Regions from separate parts of the Homo sapiens genome. Here region 1 is linked to region 2. Evidence: fine-mapped expression QTL. A gene starts in region 2. The other region holds a variant in brackets. All regions are shown on one strand. Distances are between the middles of the regions. Region 1 holds the start of AGMAT (agmatinase (putative)). Region 2 holds the start of DNAJC16 (DnaJ heat shock protein family (Hsp40) member C16).

What was found. PIP is the estimated chance that this variant, and not a neighbour inherited with it, causes the effect.
Region 1: its variant is fine-mapped to the expression of DNAJC16 in atrial appendage (GTEx, PIP 0.94).

Annotation. Positions count from the first base shown.
Region 1 is chr1:15,576,472-15,587,296 of GRCh38, forward strand. AGMAT (agmatinase (putative)) reads right to left here and starts at 8,580. Exons shown (of 7, transcript NM_024758.5): 1 at 8,225-8,580; 2 at 6,722-6,924; 3 at 3,623-3,671; 4 at 2,388-2,583; 5 at 1,214-1,393. The coding sequence starts at 8,496. RefSeq lists an enhancer at 8,073-8,122 and a silencer at 8,233-8,562. The variant C/G (reference allele first, on the strand shown) is at 4,942.
Region 2 is chr1:15,520,669-15,531,493 of GRCh38, forward strand. DNAJC16 (DnaJ heat shock protein family (Hsp40) member C16) reads left to right here and starts at 6,180. Exons shown (of 15, transcript NM_015291.4): 1 at 6,180-6,290; 2 at 8,420-8,604. The coding sequence starts at 8,438. CASP9 (caspase 9) reads right to left here and starts at 3,547. Exons shown (of 9, transcript NM_001229.5): 1 at 3,401-3,547. The coding sequence starts at 3,532. RefSeq lists silencers at 3,517-3,906, 4,187-4,626, 6,065-6,204, 6,326-6,620, 6,545-6,644 and enhancers at 5,836-6,339, 5,855-5,954.

The sequences.
Region 1 (10,825 bases), 56 kb after region 2:
CAGGCTGGAGTACAGTGGCACGATCTCAGCTCACTGCAACCTCCGCCTCCAGGGTTCAAGCAATTCTCCTGCCTCAGCCTCCCAAGTAGCTGGGATTACAGACGCCTGCCACCGTGCCGGGCTGATTTTTGTACTTTTAGTAGAGACAGGGTTTCACCATCTTGGCTAGGCTGGTCTCGAACTCCTGACCTTGTGATCCACCCGCCTCGGCCTCCCAGAGTGCTGGGATTCCAGGCGTGAGCCACGACACCTGGCCAAGTTTAGTGTTCTTTTTTTTTTTTTTTTTTTTTTTTTTTGAGATGGAGTTTCACTCTTTCGCCCAGGCCAGACTGCAGTGGTTCTATCTCGGCTCACTGCAAGCTCTGCCTCCCGGGTTCATGCCATTCTCCTGCCTCAGCCTCCTGAGTAGCTGAGATTACAGGCACCCGCCACCGCGCCCGGCTAATTTTTTTGTATTTTTAGTAGAGACGGAGTTTCACCGTGTTAGCCAAGATGGTCTCGATCTCCTGACCTCGTGATCCACCCACCTCAGCCTCCCAAAGTGCTGGGATTATAGACGTGAGCCACCGTGCCCGGCCAAGTTTAGTGTTCTTAAGAGAGGATACTATAATGTTGTTCCTATGAACTGTTGTTTTCATGACAGATGAACTGAAGGCAGGAAGAGCAAATAAAGGACAAAATAAGGGACTATTATATCCCAGATAGGAAATGAAGGCCCTTGCCAAAATCAATCACCCTTCAGTAAGAGGGTATTCAAACTTATCCTCAGCCCAGAGAACAGAAAAGGCCTAGGTGCTCTGCTCTTAAAATCCTACCTTGGCAGCCAGGCGCGGTGGCTGACACCCGTAATCCCAGCACTTTGGGAAGCCGAGGTGAGTGGATCACGAGATCAGGAGTTCAAGACCAGCCTGACCAACATGGTGAAACCCCATCTCTACTAAAAATACAAAAATTAGCCGGGCGTAGTGGCATGTGCCTGTAATCTCAGCTACTCAGGAGGCTGAGGCAGGAGAATCGCTTGAACCTGGGAGGCGGAGGTTGCAGTGAGCCGAGATCGCACCACTGCACTCCAGCCTGGGCGACAGAGTGAGACTCCGTCTCAAACAAACAAACAAAAATCCTATCCTGATTCCTAAAGATTCGCTTCAAGTCCCAGGAAAATGGGTGTTAAGTGTCTCCACCCCCAGGATCTTCACTGGTGGAATCTCCTTACCTGACTAGGAGTGAGACCAGCAATTTCAGGTGTCCCTGTCCCTGGCGCATAGGCAGGATCCAGAGCGTCAATATCAAAGCTGATATAAATGGGTTTGCCTCCCATCTGCTGCCTGACTTCCCCCATCAGAGGAACCAGCGACTTCATCCAGCAGTCTTCAGCCAGGACTACCCGGAAGCCCTGCAGAGACAGGGACTGAGGTTTCTGTCTGGCAGCATTTACAGGGCATTTCCTGTTTGCCAGCCCCATGCTCAGCTCTGTGTGCACATGACACTTGACCCTCCATCTCCATGAAGAGGGAACTATCCTATTTTACAGGTGAGGAAGGGAGGGACAATGAGTGGTAAGGAAGCAGGGTCAAAGCTGACTGATGGAGTTGGAATCAGAGAGAAGCTTTGCTAAAGCAAGAGTGGGAAACAGCAGCTCACGCTAGCACCTTTTGAATTGCTCTGTCCAGAAGACTGGCCTTGGCACGCTCTAAAAGCAAGGGATTTGGGTCTGTTCCATTGGGGTCTTGTCATACACGTCTATCTGAGAGCCATTCTGCCTAGAGGGTACGAGGACCAGAACTAAGAAGGTGGCAACTCATCTTGGGTCCGGACTTCCTCCCCTCTTTTTTTTTTCTTTTGAGATGGAGTCTCACTTTGTCACCTAGGCTAGAGTGCAGTGGCGCGATCTCAGCTCACTGCAACCTCCACCTCCCACGTTCAAGCAATTCTCCTGCCTCAGTCTCCCGAGTAGCTGGGATTACAGGTGCGCACCGCCACACCTGGCTAATTTTTGTATTTTTAGGAGAGACGGGGTTTCACCATGTTGGCCAGGCTGGTCTCGAACTCCTGACCTCAGGTGATCCACCCACCTTAGCCTCCCAAAGTGCTGGGATTACAGGTGTGAGCCACTGTGCCCGGCCTCCTCCCCTCTTCTAAGCCAGCACCGTCCGAGGGGTTGGTCGATTTCTGCTTGTCTCCCCCGCCCAGCGATAGACTTCCCATGGCCCATAAACCAACTTCCTCACTCCTATGCTCCTTATGCCCCTGATGATGCAAACTCAGCCTTGTATCCCTGCTTCAGACTTGATTAGTAAAGCCCCCGCTCAATCCCTGGCTGCCACTGGTGAGGCAACGGAGAGGAAGACATTTTGAGGGGCAAGGGTGGGGGGCATTCGGTCTGTCACCTGGCTCCGGTTGTATCTGTAGGGATCCAAGGTCGTGGAAGAGCCCCGGATGCCAATCTGCACCACACGCTTACAGTCCAGGAGACCCTCATCCACACACCGGCGGAAGGGCGCCCCGTGGTAGAGCTTCTCTCCTAGGGCCTTGTCGGTCGTGTCCGTGTGCGCATCCACGTGCAGCAGCCCCACTGGGCCATGCCTGATGACAACAGGGCAGCTCAGAGGCCAACCCTCCCTGTGGGGCCCTAGCACAGCCACCCTTCGGGCCACCAAAACTTGGTGACAATTCACAGCCAAAAAGGGGAGACCTGGCATCCGTTTTCTGCCTTGCAACTGGTTCCTGTCTTCTTGAGATCACTTTGCATCTCAGAGGAACAATAAACTCACAGAAGTCAGGCAGGAAATAGACATGTTTTGGCTGCCACCCACACCTATCACCCAGAATTTGCTTCACTTAGAGACAGGATGAGAATCAAGGGTGGTGGCACAGGGGAGCTTGGCTGAAGGCTTAACTAAACCAAGACACACCCTTTCTCCAACCGAGGAAGAGGAAGCTTTAATCCAGCTCTCTCCATAACCTCCATCAACCCCTGCCAGCCACCCAAAATAAACATCTGATCCAAATCCGTGAGGAATAAATGCAGCTTTGAGCAAAGACCTGCACCCTCCCACCTCCAACCAGAATGCCACCCACATGTGCTTCCACAGACACATTCTGGAGCTGCCACCCTCCACCCGGGTCCTTCTGTCTCTTTCTCAAACTAAATTAGCCAAAGTCGGCCAATCCTGGGTAGACTTCCACTACTGGCAAATCAGTCTTTTGATTGAGAAAGGTGCCCTTTCAGGAGGAAACAAGGGCCTCTCAGCAAGGTCCACCATTGTGCCTGTCAGTGTTTGTTTTTGGCCATTGAAGCAAAACAGAAACTGAAGTTAACTGAGGTTGTGTATTTCACTAGAGGCTCATCTTCCAAAAACAGAAGCAAGTTGAAAATGCTGAGCACACATACCAGGAGAGATCTAGGGCAAGGGAGGGTGGCCAGAACTGTTAATAATAAATTGTCTTGGCTTCTAGCTGCTGACTGACAGAGACACCTGGAGCTCAACCTTAATTTTGATCCCCAGAAGCAGCTCATAACCTGAGCCAGCAGCAGTCACCTAATGCCACCAAACAGCAAATAACTCATTCCCTAGCTTCTGGCTTTTGAAATCTTGCTGGGCCCAAGCCATTTGAGACTTACTTTTTTGCCATCGCTTGCAATATGGGATATGTGATTGTGTGATCTCCACCTGCAAAGAGGAAGAAGAAAACATCTGGAAAGTGAATTGGAGGATTACATAGAATAATCTTTTTTTTTTTTTTTTTTTTTTGAGATGTAGTTTTGCTCTGTTGTCCAGGCTGGAGTTCAATGGCACAATCTCGGCTCACTGCAACCTCTGCCTCCCAGGTTCAAGCGATTCTCCTGCCTCAGCCTCCCGAGTAGCTGGGATTACAGGTGTGTACCACCATACCTGGCTAATTTTGTATTTTTAGTAGAGACGGAGTTTCACCATGTTGGTCAGACTGGTCTCAAACTCCTGACCTCAAGTGATCCACTCGCCTTGGCCTCCCAAAGTGCTAGGATTACAGGCATGAGCCACCATGCCCAGCTGAATAATCTTAACTCAATTTTCACCCTTTCAGCCTGGGGGGAGTTATAACCACAGCTACAGTAAGATCTTATAGAATGGCAGGATGCTGAATGAGCCTGGGAGGTCAAGGCTGCAGTAAGCTGTGATCGTGCCACTGCACTCCAACCTGGGCGACAGAGTAAGACACTATCTCAAAAAAATGAATAGCTTGCTGGGCACGGTGGCTCATGCCTGTAATCCCAGCAGTTTGGGAGGCCAAGGCGGGCAGGTCACCTGATGTTGGGAGTTCAAGACCAGCCTGACCAACATGGAGAAACCCCGTCTCTACTGAAAATACAAAATTAGCCGGGCATGGTAGCGCATGCCTGTAATCCCGGCTACTCTGGAGGCTGAGGCAGGAGAATCACTTGAACCCAGGAAGCGGAGGTTGCGGTGAGCCAAGATCGCGCCACTGCACTCCAGCCTAGGCAACAAGGGTGAAACTCCATCTCAAAAAATAAAATAAAATAAATAAATAAATAGCTTGAGCCTAGAAGTTTGAGACCAGCCTGGGCAACACAGCAAGACCACGTCTCTAAAAAATAAAAATAAAAATAGACCAGGCGCAGTGGCTCACACCTTGGGAGGCCAAGACAAGCAGATCGCCTGAGCCCAGGAATTCAAGGTCCACCTGGGTAATACATTAAGACCCCGTCTTTGCAAAAAATACAAAAATTAGCTGGGCATGGTGACAAACGCCTGTAGACCCAGCTACTCGGGAGGCTGGAGTGGAAGGATCACCTGAGCCCAGGGAGGGCAAGGTTGCAGCGAGCCATGTCGGCACCACTGCACTCCAGCCTGGGTGACAGAGTGAGACCGTGTCTCAAAAATAAATAAATAAAAGAGGAAATTAGACAAGTTAAGAGCTACTCTAGGAATTGCCTTTTCA[C/G]AGTATTCTAGGAAAATGCCTAGAATAGCTCTGTTCAATAGAACCTTCTATGATGATGACAATGTTCTATCTGCACTGGCCCATATGGTAGCCACTATCCACATGTGACACACATGTGACATACATGTAGCTAATATGACTTAAGAAACTGAATATTTTATTTTAATTAATTTGAATTTAGGCCGGGCGTGGTGGCTCACGCCTGTAATCCCAGCATTTTGGGAAGCTGAGGCGGCGGATCACCTGAGGTCAGGAGTTCGAGACCAGCCTTGCCAACATGTTGAAACCCTATTTCTACTAAAAATGCAACAAATTAGCTGGGCGTGGTGGCACGCGCCTGTAATCCCAGCTATTCAGGAGGCTGAGGCAGGAGAATCACTTGGACCCAGGAGGCGGAGGTTGCCGTGAGCCAAGCGGGACAACAAGAGCAAAACTCTGTCTCAAAAAAAAAAAGAATTTAAGTAGCCACATGTGGCTAGTGGCTACCTTACTGGACAGCACAGACCTAGGAAAGTATTCTTTCTGATAATAATAACAGTTAACATTTATTGAAGCTTCAGATATGCCATGCATAGGTCGGGCGCAATGGCTCACGCCTGTAATCCCAACACTTTGGAAGGCCGAGGTGGGCAGATCACCTGAGGTCAGGAGTTCGAGACCAGCCTGACCAATATGATGAAACCCCGTCTCTACTAAAAATATAAAAATTAGCCGGGCATGCTGGCGGGCGCCTATAATCCCAGCTATTCAGGAGGCTGAGACAGAATTGCTTGAACCCGGGAGGCGGAGGTTGCAGTGAGCCGAGATCGTGCCATTGCACTCCAGCCTGGGCAACAAGAGTGAAATTCTGTCTCAAAAAAAAAGAAAAAAAAAAAAGATATGCCATGCTTGATGCTGGGCATTTCATGTGCACTTTCATTATATGCCCCTCACATCATGCAGTGAGTAGGTGTTACTGTGATCATTCCCATCTTACAGGTGAGGGTGTGAAGCATCAAGCACGGTATACAGCAACATTGCTAGGGAGAAGTGCAGCTGAGACTTCAAACCATGCCATCGGGAAACCACACTCCTCCCACTATGCCATGCAGGCTAGGCTCTCTAACTTGGCAAAAATGAATTTGGATATTTAGGAAAAGATCCCTGTCATTTTAAGTATTTGTGAACAAGAGAAAAAGTGAGAGTGGGTCAGGGGTGAGGATAAGGGGAAAGCTGCCCTATAGGTTGATGTAGACCCTGAGCAGGACAAAAACACCCTCTTTGCAGTTCTCCTCGCAAATAAAGTCATTAGAAACATCATCTTGGCCAGGCGCGGTGGCTCATGCCTGTAACCCCAGCACTTTGGGAGGCCAAGGTGGGCGGATCACTTGAGGTCAGGAGTTCAAGACCAGCCTGGCCAACATGGCAAAACCCCGACTCTACCAAAAATACAAAAATTAGCCAGGCATGGTGGTGGGCGCCTGTAATCCCAGCTACTTGGGAGGCTGAGGCAGGAGAATTGCTTGAACCCAGGAAGTGGAGGTTGCAATGTGCCGAGATTGCACCACTGCACTCCAGTCTGGGTAACAGAGTGAGACTGTCTCACACACACACATACACACACACGTGAAATATTCTCTCCCCAGGGATTAAAATAAATGAATTACAATGCTCTCTTTCCTACTGTCTGCACATTTGCAGTGGCTTGCAGGGGAGAAGTAGCTGTACTCAAGCCCCTGAGTACAGGATAAGTAAACCCTGAGTGCAGGGAACTACTCTGGCTCTTGCAGACTGACATTACCCAAGGTCAGAGGAATACAGCCAGCTGCTACAATTTTCTCATAGGCCTCTTGAATTCGCCGGCAGCTGTCCTGAAGGTTGTAAAGATTGACATTCACATCGCCTAGGTCTGCAACCATGAGGGACTGGAAGGGGAGGGCCCCCGTGCTAGGATTGACTGTCCCAAGCATCACTGATTCTTCCCGGATGCGGCGAGGTCCGAATCTGCAGAAGGAAGAATCATCCTGTCAGCCATCATCTGCAGAGATTTCAGGCTTTGCTTAGGCCAGGGCTTCTCAGCCTCAGCAATTTGGGGCCAGATGATTCCGTGTCGCGGCATTGCATAATGGAATGCTTAGCAGCATCCCGGCCTGTACTCACTAGGTGCCAGTAGCACCCTTCCTCCAAGGTGTAACAACCCAAAACGCCTCCAGATACTGCCAAATGTCCCCGGAGTGCAAAACCGCCCCACTTGAGAATCACCGATCTAGGCTATGTATCGAAGAGACTAAATAAGTGTACTAAATGGCATTAGTGAATTTCATGATCTACCTGAGTCTCAGTTTCCTAATTTGTAAAATATTTACCTTGCACTGTAGTAAAAATTAAATGAGGTAATCTATGCAAAGCACCTTGCACTTAGGAGACATTTAATAAGTGCTGGCTTTCATAATTCAGATCAGTACGGTCAGATATAGTGTTGCTGAGCTGAATCAGAAATTGCTGACGTTCAATAACTAGGAAGATGAATTTTGCTTCCTCCGACTTGATCCTAGGAAAATTGCCTTCATTTGAGCATTTCTTGAGTCAGGTGACATCTTCAGATTTGGGGAAGGGGCAGCCAGTTTCTGCTCTCAAATGCAATGTCACCTGCCACTGTAAGCTGGGGAGAGGAGAGGGGAGGAATCCACAGCAGCCATCCCAGCAAGGCCCCAGGATGGGGACACAGAGAAGGTTCAGGCTCCAGAATCCCTTCTTTTTTCTTTTTTTGAGACGGAGTCTCACTCTGTTGCCCAGGCTGGAGCGCAGTGGCGCAATCTCAGCTCACTGCAACCTCCGTCTCCCGGGTTCAAGCGATTCTCCTGCCTCAGCCTCCCGAGTAGCTGGGATTACAGGCCCGCGCCACCATGCCCGGCTTTTTTTTTCTTTTTTTTGTACCTTTGTAGAGACAGAGTTTCACCATGTTGGTCAGGATGGTCTCGAACTCCTGACCTCGTGATCCGCCCGCCTCAGCCTCCCAAAGTGCTGGGATTACAGGCATGAGCCACCGGGCCGGCCAAAATCCCTTCTTGACCAATGATGACACTAAGATGTGGGAGGCCACGCCCATGTTGAGCCCTGGGGTTTGCTTATTGAGGGTCCAGGTAAATCAACCATCTCAAACCATAAGGGGCATTTTGGAGCCGGCCACCAGCTTCCAACTCGACCCGGGGCCAGCAGGGGCGCCTGTCTCGGTGCTTTCCATGCCCGACAGCCAGCAAGCAGTCCCTCCACGTGTACCCGGCCCCCGTCCTTCCGGCCTTACCTCGCCCCAGGCCGGTTGGAGGTCCCAGTATCCAGGGGCACCCCGATGAAGGCAGCGTCCAGCCCCTCGGGGGAGGTCTGCACCGGCAGGCGCATCATGGAGCAGACGCCCACCGGCCGGGCCACGAACTCGGGGCTGGGGGGCTGGTTCCGGGGCGCGTCGGAAGCCTGGCGGCTCTGGCGGCGCCCCGGATGAAAGAGCCCTGCGGCAGGACGCGCGCCCACGCCGGGCCCCGGGCCCCGGGCGCACCCGGACGCCAGCAGCCTCAGCATTGCCGCGCGCGGCCAAGACCTCACCGACCAAACCGCCCGCGAGGCCGCCGCGATCTGGCTGGTCCCGAACGGCGAGGCGAGTGTGCACGCGCCAGAGCCGGAACCCGAGCCGGCTCAAAGGTCAGGGGCGCCCTAGGATCAAGGCGGGGGAGGGGCCCCAGGACCTGCCGTGCTCTCCCCTCAACCCCTCTGGACTTCAGCCTCTGGCAAATAGAGTCAGGCTGGGGGTGCCCACTGGCCGGCACTGTGCCAGGGGTGTCTGCGCCCTGCTCCCCACTGTGGCCTTCAGCAGCCTCTTCTCCCATTCAGAGTAATTGTTTGTTTTTATAGAGACGGTCTCACTGTGTTGCCCAGACTGGTCTCCAACTTCTGGACTCAAGTGATTCTCCCACCTTGGCCTCCCAAAGTGCTGGGATTACAGGTGTGAGCCACAGCAGCCACCCCAGAGTAATATTTTTAAAGCCAGAAAGATATGAAGGAAAATGATCTTTCTCTAAGCCAGAAAAATAGGAAATGCATTTTTTTAAATAATGTATTTTTAAATGTCCAGGGATAGGAATCTCAAGAAGCAGTAAAGTTAGTTAGCTACTTAGCTAGCTAGCTAGTTATTTTGAGACAGGGTCTTGCTGTGTTGCTCAGGCTGGAGTGCAGTGGCACAATCATAGCTCACTGCAGCCTCAAACTGCTGGGCTCAAGCAATCGTCTCACCTCAGCCTCCCGAGTAGTTGGGACTACAAGCGTGAGCCATCGCGCCTGGCCAGTAAAGTCTTTTTAAATAACCTTGTTAAAAAAGGACTAGAGGCCAGGGGCGGTGGCTCACGCCTGTAATCCCAGCACTTTGGGAGGCTGAGGCGGGCGGATCACGAGGTCAGGAGATCGAGACCATCCTGGCTAACACGGTGAAACCCCATCTCTACTAAAAGTACAAAAATTTAGCCGGGCATGGTGGCAGGTGCCTGTAGTCCCAGCTACTTGGGAGGCTGAGGCAGGAGAATGGCATGAACCCGGGAGGCGGAGCTTGCAGTGAGCTGAGATCAGGCCACTGCACTCCAGCCTGGGCAACAGAGCAAGACTCCGTCTCAAAAATAAATAAATAAATAAATAAATAAATAAATAAATAAATAAAGGACTTACAGGCAAGCTGTAAGGAAGGTCACAGTGCCAGAGAACCTGTTACATCCTCTTTATTTCTAAGGGGAAAGAAAAACACACGTGGAAAGAAAGAAGTGATTTGTAATGGAATTATGTGAGCCATTTAGCAGTATTATATATATTATTTTTTCTGATCTCTAAATGTTGAGATTGAATGGAAAAGGCTCACATTTGCATTTACGTTGCAACCTCTACACAAAGGTTGCACATTAGGCCAGGCGCGGTGGCTCACACCTGTAATCCCAGCACTTTGGGAGGCCGAGGTGGGCGGATCATGAGGTCAGGAGATGAGACCATCTTGGCTAACATGGTGAAACCCCATCTCTACTAAAAATACAAAAAATTAGCCAGGCGTGGTGGTGGGCACCTGTAGTACCAGCTACTCGGGAGCCTGAGGCGGGAGAATGACGTGAACCCGGGAGGGTGGAGTTTGCAGTGAGCCAAGATCGCGCCACTGCACTCCAGCCTGGGCAACACAGCAAGACTCTGTCAAAAAAAAAAAAAAAGGTTGCACATTAAACCCCACACCACTCCAGCCTCCACTCTGGAGTGGAGCCTCCACTCTGCAGGTCGGGACAGAGTTTCCTAATGGTCAATTATCAGTGCTTAGTGTTGGCCTTGGGGCAGGTCCCAGCCATTTTCTGGAACAAATGCAACAATCTCTCAGTTATTTTTTCCTTTTTTTCTCCCTTATGCCACTTAAAGGGTCTCAGTTATTCTCTTGACTCCCAAATTCAACTGCTATTTCTTTCATGTTGCTTGTCCTGAATGTATCATGTTCTTACTCCGGGTTTTTCTTTCATTCAGCTCACAAATATTGAGTGTCCGCTATGTGCCAGGCGTTCCAATGAGGTGTCCCCAACATCCACTACTGCTGAGCACCCTCTCTCCTTGAAACGTTCCTCAGGCGGCCTCTTGACTGGGACTCCCCTGGTCTCCTTCCACCTTCGTGGCTCCTTCTCGGCTGGCAATCCCTTTTAATACGGAGGTGATGACTTTCACCCATAGGCAGGTCAACCACAAGCCCAAATCCCAGCCCTGAGCTCCAGGCGACCAATTTCTAACCCTGACCTGGATGCTTGACAGCACCTGGGGTGGGCTGCAAGTTCAGCCAGCGACTTTCCACCTCCCTGTCTCTGATCCTGCTCTACGCCCCCAAATTTAAGAAGTCCTGATG
Region 2 (10,825 bases):
TCCTGCCAGGCGCGGTGGCTCACGCCTGTAATCCCAGCACTTTGGGAGGCCAAGGCAGGCAGATCACAAGGTTAGGAGTTCAAGACCAGCCTGACCAACACGGTGAAACCCGTCTCTACTAAAAATACAAAAAAATTAGCTGGGCGTGGTAGTGCGCACCTGTAATTCCAGCTACTCAGGAGGCTGAGGCAGAACAGCTTGAACCCTGGCTGGGCGCGGTGGCTCAAGCCTGTAATCCCAGCACTTTGGGAGGCCAAGGTGGGCAGATCACGAGGTCAGGAGATCGAGACCATCCTGGCTAACACGGTGAAACCCCATCTCTACTAAAAATACAAAAAATTAGCCGGGCGTGGTGGCGGGTGCCTGTAGACCCAGCTACTCGGGAGGCTGAGGGAGGAGAATGGCATGAACCCGGGAGGCGGAGCTTGCAGTGAGCCGAGATTGCGGCACTGCACTCCAGCCTGGGCGACAGAGCGAGACTCCGTCTCAAAAAAAAAAAAAAAAAAAAGGAAAATAGCTTGAACCCGGAAGGTGGAGGTTGCAGTGAGCTGAGATCGTACCATTGCACTCCAGCCTGGGCGAAAAAGTGGGACACCACCTCAAAAAAAAAAAAAAAAGAAAGGGAGTCTCCTTTCCTTGGAGGCGTCAGGGAGCACTCTGCTCCACCAGCTTCTTGTGGGAGGCTGGATATTATCCATGCCTGCCCGCAGTCATCCGGAGACCTAAACCCCTCCCTGTGGTGCTGTGCTTCCATGGTCACGCTCCTTGCCCACTTTCATGTTCCTCCCGTACTCCTGGTTCCTGTTTGAAGTTCATAGATAGCGGTAGAAGAAATAGTGAAAGTCTTAAAGTCTTTGATCTTTCTTATAAGTGCATAGAAGAAAACGCTGACATATGCTGCCTTCTCTCTCTGCTTCAGCTACCTAAAAGGGAAGGGCCCCCTGTCCTATGATCACGTGACTTGCTTCACCTTATCAATCACTTAGAAGATTCACCCTCCTTACCCTGTCCCCTTGCCTTATATCCAATAACAGCGCAGCCAGGCATTCGGGGCCACTACCCTGTCTCCACGTCTAGGTGGTAGTGGTCCCCCGGGCCCAGCTGTCTTTTTTTCTATCTCTTTCTCCTGTGTCTTTATTTCTACGATCTCTCATCTCCGCACACGAGGAGAAAAACCCACAGGCCCTGTAAGGCTTGACCCTACCAATTTTTAGTTTTATTTAATTTTAATTACTTCAAATTTACCTTTAACGACATGTGGCTAATGGCTACTGTTGGGAACAGCACAGACCTACAGTGCCACTGAGAAGGTAAGTCTCACTAGCAGAACAGTTGGCTACATGCAAATAGATGGTGGTGTTTAGGTTTCTCTCCACATTTGCTGAACACTCCAGGAGGTCAACACTGTGTTAAATGCATTGTTTCATCTTTTTCTCCCTCAATAACTTTATAGAGTTAAATTAGAACTTCCCAACTTTTTAGGGTAAAAAATTTCAGGGAAACTGAGTCATAGGGTTTTTCTGTTTGTTTGGCTCATTGGTTGTGGTTTTTTACAACTTGCTAATATGTAACAAGGCCAGGATGAGAGCCCAGATCCAACTGGTTCCAAAACCTGCCTGTTTTTCAGCCATACTGAATGGCAAAATGGCAACCTGTGGTTCCCACAAGGTTCTTAAAAAATTTCTGAATTTGTTGCTAACATTTTAAGCCAGGGAATTTGACAGAGGAATCAAGATTTTCAGCTTCTTTTTTAAGATGTGAAAGCTGGGCCGGGTACAGTGGCTCACACCTGTAATCCCAACACTGAGGCAGGAGAATCACTTGAGGCCAAGAGTTTGAGACTCATCTAGGCAACATAGCAAGACTCCTATCTGTACAAAAAAAAAATTTTTTTTAATTAGCCAGGCATGGTGGCATGTGCCTAAAGTCCCAGCTGCTCTAAAGGCTGAGGCAGGAAGACCACTTAAGCCCAGGAGGTCAAGGTCGCAGTGAGCCATGATCTCATCCCTGCACTCCAGGCTGGGCAAGAGTGAGACCCTGCCTCAAAATAAGTGTAAGATGTGGCAATACTGGGCCATTTGTTGATATGGCCATACTCAGCTGGAGACGGAGGGCAGTGCAAAGGCTATCCACTATGACGCCCATCCATTGGTCCTCCATGGGCATTTGAGTTTGTGATCCCCGTGAACATTCCTGAAGGCAAGGACTGTGGCCTCAAACCATTACTGTTCCCCAGTAGGGGCCACACAGAAGGCACAAAACTTATTTTATTATTAATGAATAATTACTCATATGATACTCAATTATTTAAAGACTCTTTCCCTGGGCCAGGGCACTGGCCAGGGATATCCAGCCAGCCACTCACACCTACTGCACCTCATGGTAGGAAATATCTCCTGCATCCTCACAGGCCTGTGATGAGGGTCAAATGAGACAAAGATGGGAAAGTGCTTTTAAACAAAACCTCAAATGTTTGACTTCATTATTCTCCATTCTGCATCAGGTCCCCTCATTTCCAAAACCTCTTAACAAAACATAAACTGAACACAGAAGGGGCTGGCCAAAGAGGGCAGGGTACGCTGATCCCCCGCTCTGTGCCTAGCACTACAGTTTCACATCCGTTATTTCATTTAGTCCTTATGACAGTATTATTCTTATTCCCATTTCACAGCCCAGAAACTGTGGCTCAAAGAGGGTAAGTGACTGGCCCAAGAACACGCTGCCAGGCAGCCTGATGCCAAAGTGGGTTCCCGAAACCTCTATGCTAGAAAAGTAAAAACGCACACGCCTCCTTCCTCGCAAGTATTAACGTAAATTAAAATGGAGACCAACCATGAAGAATTCCTGAGCAGACAAAACCAATCAGGTATCCTAAGTGACCTAAATCTTGCTTAAACTGCAAACATAAGCAAAATTTAACTTGGGTCATATCTGATAAATGCTTATGTTAGAGAGAAATAAAACTTAAGACCAGCCAAAAGCAGTCAATTAACAGACCTTAAAAAAAAAAGGCAATTTTGTAACTGCAAACCAATCAAATAATTTCTTTATTTTGCTTCCACATTTTCCCAATAAATACTTGCCTCTGACGTTTTGTCATTGCAACACTAAAGCTCTTTCAGTCTGATGTTCTCCAATTCATGAATTGTTTCTTATTCAAAGTTCTCAAGATGTGTCTCACATTTTTCCTTTACACAAGAAACACAAGCACTAACAGTGTACGCTGACTGAGTATGGCATGGAATCGCTTTAGCGAACACCCGACTAAGAGGTGTTTGGGATTCTTTGGCTCCGCTGAGGGGTTTGAAGCCACAGGGAAGGCTAGGCTCCCGCACAACGCCTCCTCGAGGGGCGTGGGGACCCGGCCGTGCAGCGCGGGGACAGGGGGCCGGGGGCGCACCTGGATGTCCTCGATCATATGGGGCCTGAACAGCTCGCGGCTCAGCAGGGCGTCCCAGAGCTGGTCCACCTGCAGCTCTTCCACCAGCCGCAGCCGGCACCGCCGCAGGAGCCGCCGATCCGCTTCGTCCATGGCGAGTAGCCAACTAAGACTCCAGGCCGCCTCAGTCCGCTTCCGGGCCTCGGCCGCCCGCCCCAGTCCCCAGGACCCGCCCCCGCCCCAGGGCCTGCCCCCGCGTCACGGCCCCGGGTCAGTCTTCGCTCCCCACCGCCTCCGGACGCATCTCCAAGGCCTCGCCCCGCCCCCAGGAGTCGCTCTTGCGTCACCGCCCCGCCCTCAGGACGCACCTCTGCGCCTCGCCCCGCCCCCAGGGCCAAGCCTCCCATCACCGCGCCGCCCCAGAACACGCTCCGCGTCACCGCCCCGCCCCAGAACCCGCCCCACGTCACCGCCCCGCTCCAGAATCCACCACTGCGTCCCCGCCCCAGAACCCGCCCCGTATCCCCGCACTGACCTCACGTCACCGCCCCGCCCCCGCGTTACCGTCCCGCCCGCAGGACGCATCTCCAACGCCTCGCCCCGCCCCAAGGATTCGCTCTTGCGTCACCGCCTCGCCTTCAGGACGCCTCCGCGCCTCGCCCTGTCCCCAGGGTCAATTCTGGGGTCACCGCCTGTCCCCAGAACCTGCCACCGCGTCACCGCCCACTCCCCGGGACGCATCTAGAAGGTCTCGCCCCGCCCCCAGGATTCGCTCTGCGTCATCGCCCCGCCCTCAGGACGCACCTCAGCGCCTCGCGCCGACCCCAGAATCCATTCCGCGCCACCGCCCCGCCCCCAGGATTCAACCCACGCCCCCACCCCGCCCCCAAGGTCAATCTTGCGCCACCGCCCCGCCCCCAAGGGCTAGCCTCGTGCCACCGCCCCGCCTCCAAGAGCCAATCCCCTCCCCTCGCTCCACCCTCAGAATCGTCCTTGCGTCACCGCTCAGCCTCAGACTCCAGTTCGCACTCTCGCCCCGCCCCCAAAGTCAATCCTCACCCCCAGGATCCATCCTTCTGTCACCGCCCCGCCCCAAGGCGGCACCTCCGCGACTCGCCCCGCCCCCAGGGCCCCGCCCCGCCCCCGCATCACCTCCCCACTCCGGGCGCAGGTGCCCTTTTGCAATTCTGGCACCAGTTCCTGGTCCACCGCGGGCCCTTCGCCAGAATTCACTATAGCCCCGCTTTTACAGAGATCCGGAGGGAGTCGTCACACTTCCAGCAAGAGGGAAACCATGAGTGGAGCCGTGATCTGTCCCGCCCATTCAACCTCCTCCGGGGCATGGCTTCCCCTTAGCCCCCTCCTCCACCCCAAGTAAAACCATAAGCTCCCCTCACCGCCCTTGTGCCCAGATCGCAGTTGACTGTTCCAAACTCGAGTGTCTGATCCAACCAAGCCCACCTTACACAGTCTTCCATTCCCTCTTCCCTCCCTCCCACCCTAACACCTCCCACACAGAAAAAAAAAAAAACGGCAGAAATCTAGTCCTGTAAACTCCCATCGTTCTGAACGGTTCATTTTCACATTTCAAAAATAATCGTTTCTGTTTACTGAGCATTTGCTAAGTCCCAGGCATCGTGCTAGCCACTTTTCATGCTTATTTCACTTATCCTTAACTACAATCCTGCCAGGAAAGTATTCCCACCCCCCGCCGGTTTTACAGATGTAGACCCTAGGGTTCAGGGAAACGAATGTTTAAGGTCACTTGGGTACTAAGTGGCCGAGGCAGGCAGGATTGAAACCCGAACCTGACTCTGTAAGCCACACTCTTAAGAATCCACCTTAGAATATAATCTCTTGAGCACCAAAACCTCAGCCCCATTCGTTCACTTCTACGAATATTTATTGAGCCTGTAGTCAAACACTAAGAACATGAAGGTGAACAAAACAAAATCCCTGCTTTTAGAGTTTACATTCCAGTGGAAGGATCAGGTGATAAACTATATCAATAAATAAGACATACTATGTTAGATAGTGATAAATGCAAAGAGAAAAAAATAAAAACAAGACAGGGAGATATGAAAGCTCTTTATATCCGCAAGGGATCTATCTCATTGGCTCAAAGAAAGTTTCCTTCACTTACCTGTGCCTTATCCCTCTCTCCACCCCCACCGCCCTTTCCCCGTGCTTAAGGCACAGACTGGTACATTCTTGGGTGGAGCTCGGTTTTCGGTAAACGGGATTAAAAGTCCTGGATTCTCTCAAAAAAAAAAAAGATAAGTAAACAAAAATAAAAGGAATGCTGGATTCTAGGCCTTGGGCAAATCTCTGCCCCTCTCTGGACCTCGGTCTCCCTATCAATATTGCAGGAGTTGGAGAGTTAAAGAATCCCTAAGGTCACTTCCAATCTGACGCTCTAAGGTTCTACGAATAGGGTTAAAGAGAATAGGGACCAGAGAGTGCGTCCCCATCCTAGCAACTGTTGCTAGACGAGGGCCATCTCCCGGTAGGAGCGGAAACACCTTCCTGGATCGAGGAGGTCCTTCTGGTATCCCATCATGCATAGCGACTTCGCCTCGCTAGGAGGCACGTTTTGGCCTCTTTGGTCACGATCAGCCTTTTGGCTGCAACCAAAGAGCGCGCCTCGTTTCTATAGCAACCACCCCAGGTCCACGCCTAGACGGCGAGTGGCAAGGGTCAAAATAGATTCGCCCAGTAGACGCCCTCGACCTGTTCGGTCCTCGCCTTCAGTGCGATAGACCTTTAAGCGTCACGTGACTCCCCTCGGGCTTGTCCCCTCCTCTTTCCCCTCCCCAGGCCCAGGCGAGCGCTGGTGTGGACGGGAAGCTCCCGGCCCGGCGAACTAACTGGAGCACGGAGCTGCAGCCGGTTGGGCCGGTGTACTTTCCCGGTAACTCCTTCCCGGCGTGACGCGCGGAACCGCGGACGCGGCGGGGCCAGGCCGACTCAGGGATTTCCCCTCAGTTCCTTCTCGTTTCCAGTCACTGCTGGCCCCGGGGGGAGCCGGGAGCCAACAGGGCCGGGCCCTGGGCTCTCGGAGGGCGGCGGGGGAGGGGGCTGTCTCCTGCAGGGTTGCGACCTCCGGCAGGAGCGCGAGGCGGGGCTTAGACCTGGAGCTTGTCTCTGGGAGCTTCTTCCTGGTCCTGGATATGCTGCCCAGAGAGCTGGCAGCCTACCTGTTGGGCAGGTGTTTGCTGCTCCGAGGTCGGCGCCGTCTATCTCGCATGTCAGCTAAAGAACTTCCCAGACCACCGCCACTTCGGCCCTCTAGCTGGAAGGAACTGACATGGTTAAATAAGGCAGCGATCGTACTGCATGGTAGAAATAATAGCACTAACGACCATTTGTTGACTGTTGACTCTGGGCTCAGTAAACCCTTTACATGCATTTAGTCCCCACATGATGATCCTTCAAGGTGGTAGTATTCATTCCCATTTTATGAATAAGGACGCTGATGCTTAGTAAGTTTAAATAATTTGCCCAAGGTAATAAAGTAGTGGAGAATAGATCCTAGTCTTCAACCCATATGCTTAACCAGTAGCTACATTGCCTTCACGTGTTTTCTAGGATATAATAGGTTGCCTTAACAAAGAAGAAACTGGTTTGTTTTAGGATTTTATTCAGCACGTATGCAATTTTAAACGTTGGTCATCAGATTAGTCAATTTTGTGAGGACTCCCAGGCGGCATTAAACTTGCACTTACGGAAATCCACCACTGTTATAGCTTTGCCCTTCTTCAGTAAGGTGTCACAGAAGACACTTGAACCTTAAAACTGTATTAACTTGTGAGAAATCAAGATAAATGTGTTCCTTGAAAAAAAACATTGTAGGGTATAACAGCAATCATAATTGTGGAGTATAAATATCTGCAGTTCCAGCACTACCCTGTTCATTAACCAGCCAGGATTATTTCCAAAATTCACAATGAATTAAGTCACTGTACTCACCAGAGATGGAGCTTGAAACTTTTAAAGACCACGCCTGCTATTTGGTCTTTGCCGTTAATTCTTCTTCACATGTAAAACTAAATTTTTTCTTGCCGCTTTTTCTCATCTGAGGTTTCCATTAATAATGACCATATTGGCCGGCGCGATGGCTCACGCCTGTAATCCCAACACTTTGGGAGGCCGAGGCGGGTGGATCACCTGAGGTCAGGAGTTCAAAACCAGCCTGGCCAACATGGTGAAACCCTGTCTCTACTAAAAATACAAAAAATTAGCTAGGCAGGGTGGCGCATGCCTGTAATCCCAGCTACTGGGGAGGCTGAGACAGGAGACTTGCTTGAACCTGGGAGGGGGAGGTTGCAGTGAGCTGAGATCCCATCATTGCACTCCAGCCTGGGCAACGAGTGAAACTCCGTCTCAAAAAAAAAAAACAAAAAAACACCATATTACTAATGATTAAAGAGCAGCTTCTCATTTTCTTGTTTGAATGGTGTGGTGAGAAAGAATAGAATTGAGGCATACTGCGTCTTAACTACACAGTTTTTTGAGAGTGTTTCACGTCCATGTTTGTACTTATTTAATGCCCAAGAATGCCACAACTATCTCATTTTGTAGTTTTGTACATGGTAAATCTTACAGTTTCATGAGTTTGTTTAACATGTACTCAATGAAGTATTCTTAAACCATTTATTTTATTTATTCTTATCAGAATAAATGAAATCATGTATTTGAGAGGTAGTCGTCCTGATTATCCTATTTAGGTTTTCTCTCATTTATGTATTATTTCTGCATCCCATTCATTTTCATTCATTTCTAAAGCTTTTCTAGTCAAAGTGTTCTGGAGAGTTGCTATTCTTATTACTCATCTTTTCATCTGTAATAGTTCTCATTTGTGATATTCAAAAGCAGTAGCGAGATTTTTATTTTAAGATACAGTTCAACAGCTTGACACTTTTCCTGCAAAATACCTTTTGTTGGTTTTGTTTTTCATCTATATATCTTATACCTTTACCTAAAAAGCAAGACTGTCCAGGTTTCTGCCACTGAAACTCATTGCCTCTTCAATCATTTCAGCTCTGGAAAGGAAGAGAAATGGAAGTGAGAAAGTTGAGCATTTCCTGGCAGTTCTTGATAGTTCTGGTTCTGATCCTGCAAATTCTGTCTGCGTTGGATTTTGACCCATACAGAGTCCTAGGGGTCAGCCGAACAGCCAGTCAGGCTGATATTAAAAAGGCTTATAAGAAGCTCGCCCGGGAATGGTAGGTGAAACAAAGAAATAGAGGTTTAACATAAGCTAAACAGTCTTAGCAGGGATGAAGTCTAAATTATGACTAGCTTTTATTTGTCTCTGTTTCTATGTTCAATATATATATCTGTCTAAAATATTTTACGCAGGAGAGCTAATGTTCATGTTCTATAATTGTTAGCGATAAGATCCAAAGCCTATGTTTACTCTGAAACTCCCTTTTAGGAATACTTTGGCTTAAAGAATTGCCTTAGATACTGTTAGCATATTTAATGTTAAAGTAACAAGTTTTAATTTTAAAAAAATGTATATATAGTCAATAATGGATATGCTACCCTTCCCATGATACATTATTCATAAAGTAACTTTATGAGTGTAATTGCTAAACAGGAACACTATACAACCCTATTCTCTAAATTATTAATTTCTACACTTTGAAAAAAAGTTAAGAGTAATAGCCTTTTGCCTCCAAAAAAAAAAATTCAGAAACCAAGGATAGTTGTCTCTTGATATCCATGAGGTCTTGGTTCCAGGATCCCCAGAAATACCAAAGTCATTGGATGCTCAAGTCCCTATATAAAATAGCATAGTATTTGCATATAATCTATGCACGTCCTCTCATATACTTTAAATCATCTCTAGCTTACTTATAATACCTAATACAATGTAACTGCTGTGCAAATGGTTGTTATACTGTTATTGTTTAAGGAATAATGACAAGAAAAAAGTCTGTACATGTTCAGTACAATGCAATTTTTTAAAAATATTTTTGAATATTTCAAAATAGAAAATATTATATTTTGGTTGGTGGAATCCATGGATGTGAAACCAACAGATATAGAGGGCTGACTATATATTACTCAAAAAAAAAAATTGGCCTGGCATGGTGGCTCATGTTTGTAATCCCAGCACTTTGGGAGGCTGAGGTGGGAGGATCGTTTGAGCCCAGGAGTTTGAGACCAGCCTGGGCAACATAGTGACACCTCATCACTATGGAAAAAAAAAAAAAGCCCAGAAGTTTGAGGCTGAAGTGAGCTATAATCACACCACTGCACTCCAGCCTGGGCAACAGAGTGAGACCCGTCTCAAAAAAAAAAACTTACAGAAAATTGTAATTTTGCCTGTAGTTATCAGGATAGCAATTAGCAGGGTAGCAATAAATCTAAAACTTTGGACAAATATCATCAGTTTCTTCCACCAATGCCTTGGCCATGCCAAAGAAGCAGAAGTGTTGGATTATATAGATGGAGGGGGAGCAGCAGAAGGAGGAAAGGACAGAGGTGACTCCAAGCTGGCTGTACCAACCATGAGGAATGGAAGAAAGTTTGGGACAGGTACCATCACTGAGCACCTACTACATGCTAATCTCCTGGTTCTATACTTTTTATCTCATTTAAACCTTATAATGAGCCTATGAAGGAGGATATCAGTATCTCTTTTTTTTTTGAGACGGAGTCTCGCTCTGTCACGCAGGCTGGAATGCAGTGGCACAATCTTGGCTCACTGTAACCTCCGCTTCCTGGGTTCAAGGGATTCTCCTGACTCAGCCTCCCAAGTAGCTGGGACTACAGGCGTGCACCACCACACCCAGCTAATTGTTGTATTTCTAGTAGAGACGGGGTTTTGCCATATTGGCCAGGCTGGTCTCAGACTCCTGACCTCAAGTGATCCGTCCACCTCGGCCTCCCAAAGTGCTGGGATTACAGACGTGAGCTACCATGCTCGGCCAGTGTCTCTGTTTTATAGATGAGAAGATGGAGGCTTAGAGTTGGTAAATCTGTGGTACCTCTGGGTTCCGTAGTTTGACCCTCTGCATCAGTAGTCCATTGCTTTATTGTTTTTTAATCATTTACACATCTAGGCATGAGTAAGGGTGAGTGGGCTAATGGTTGGCTGGGGAGGAGCTGAATGCGAGTAGGAAGTTATCCAGAAGCAAAACTGCCACATTGAGGTGATGCATGGTACAGACTGCATGCGTGACTGCGCCTGACACTGTTCTGCTTCAGTGAACAGGTATATTTTAGCATTAAACTGGTTGAAATAAAGGTAAAGATCATTGAAAATATATTTTTAAAATAAATGTTTTAGACCATATTCCATGAGAAATCCAGAATTGGATGCCAAAGAAGCAATCTCTAATTATACATGACCTCCTTCCAGGGACTCTTTATACCAAGGTTATGTTCTACATCATTTCAGACTCTTGCCTCTTTATGTTTAAAGCAGGATATATA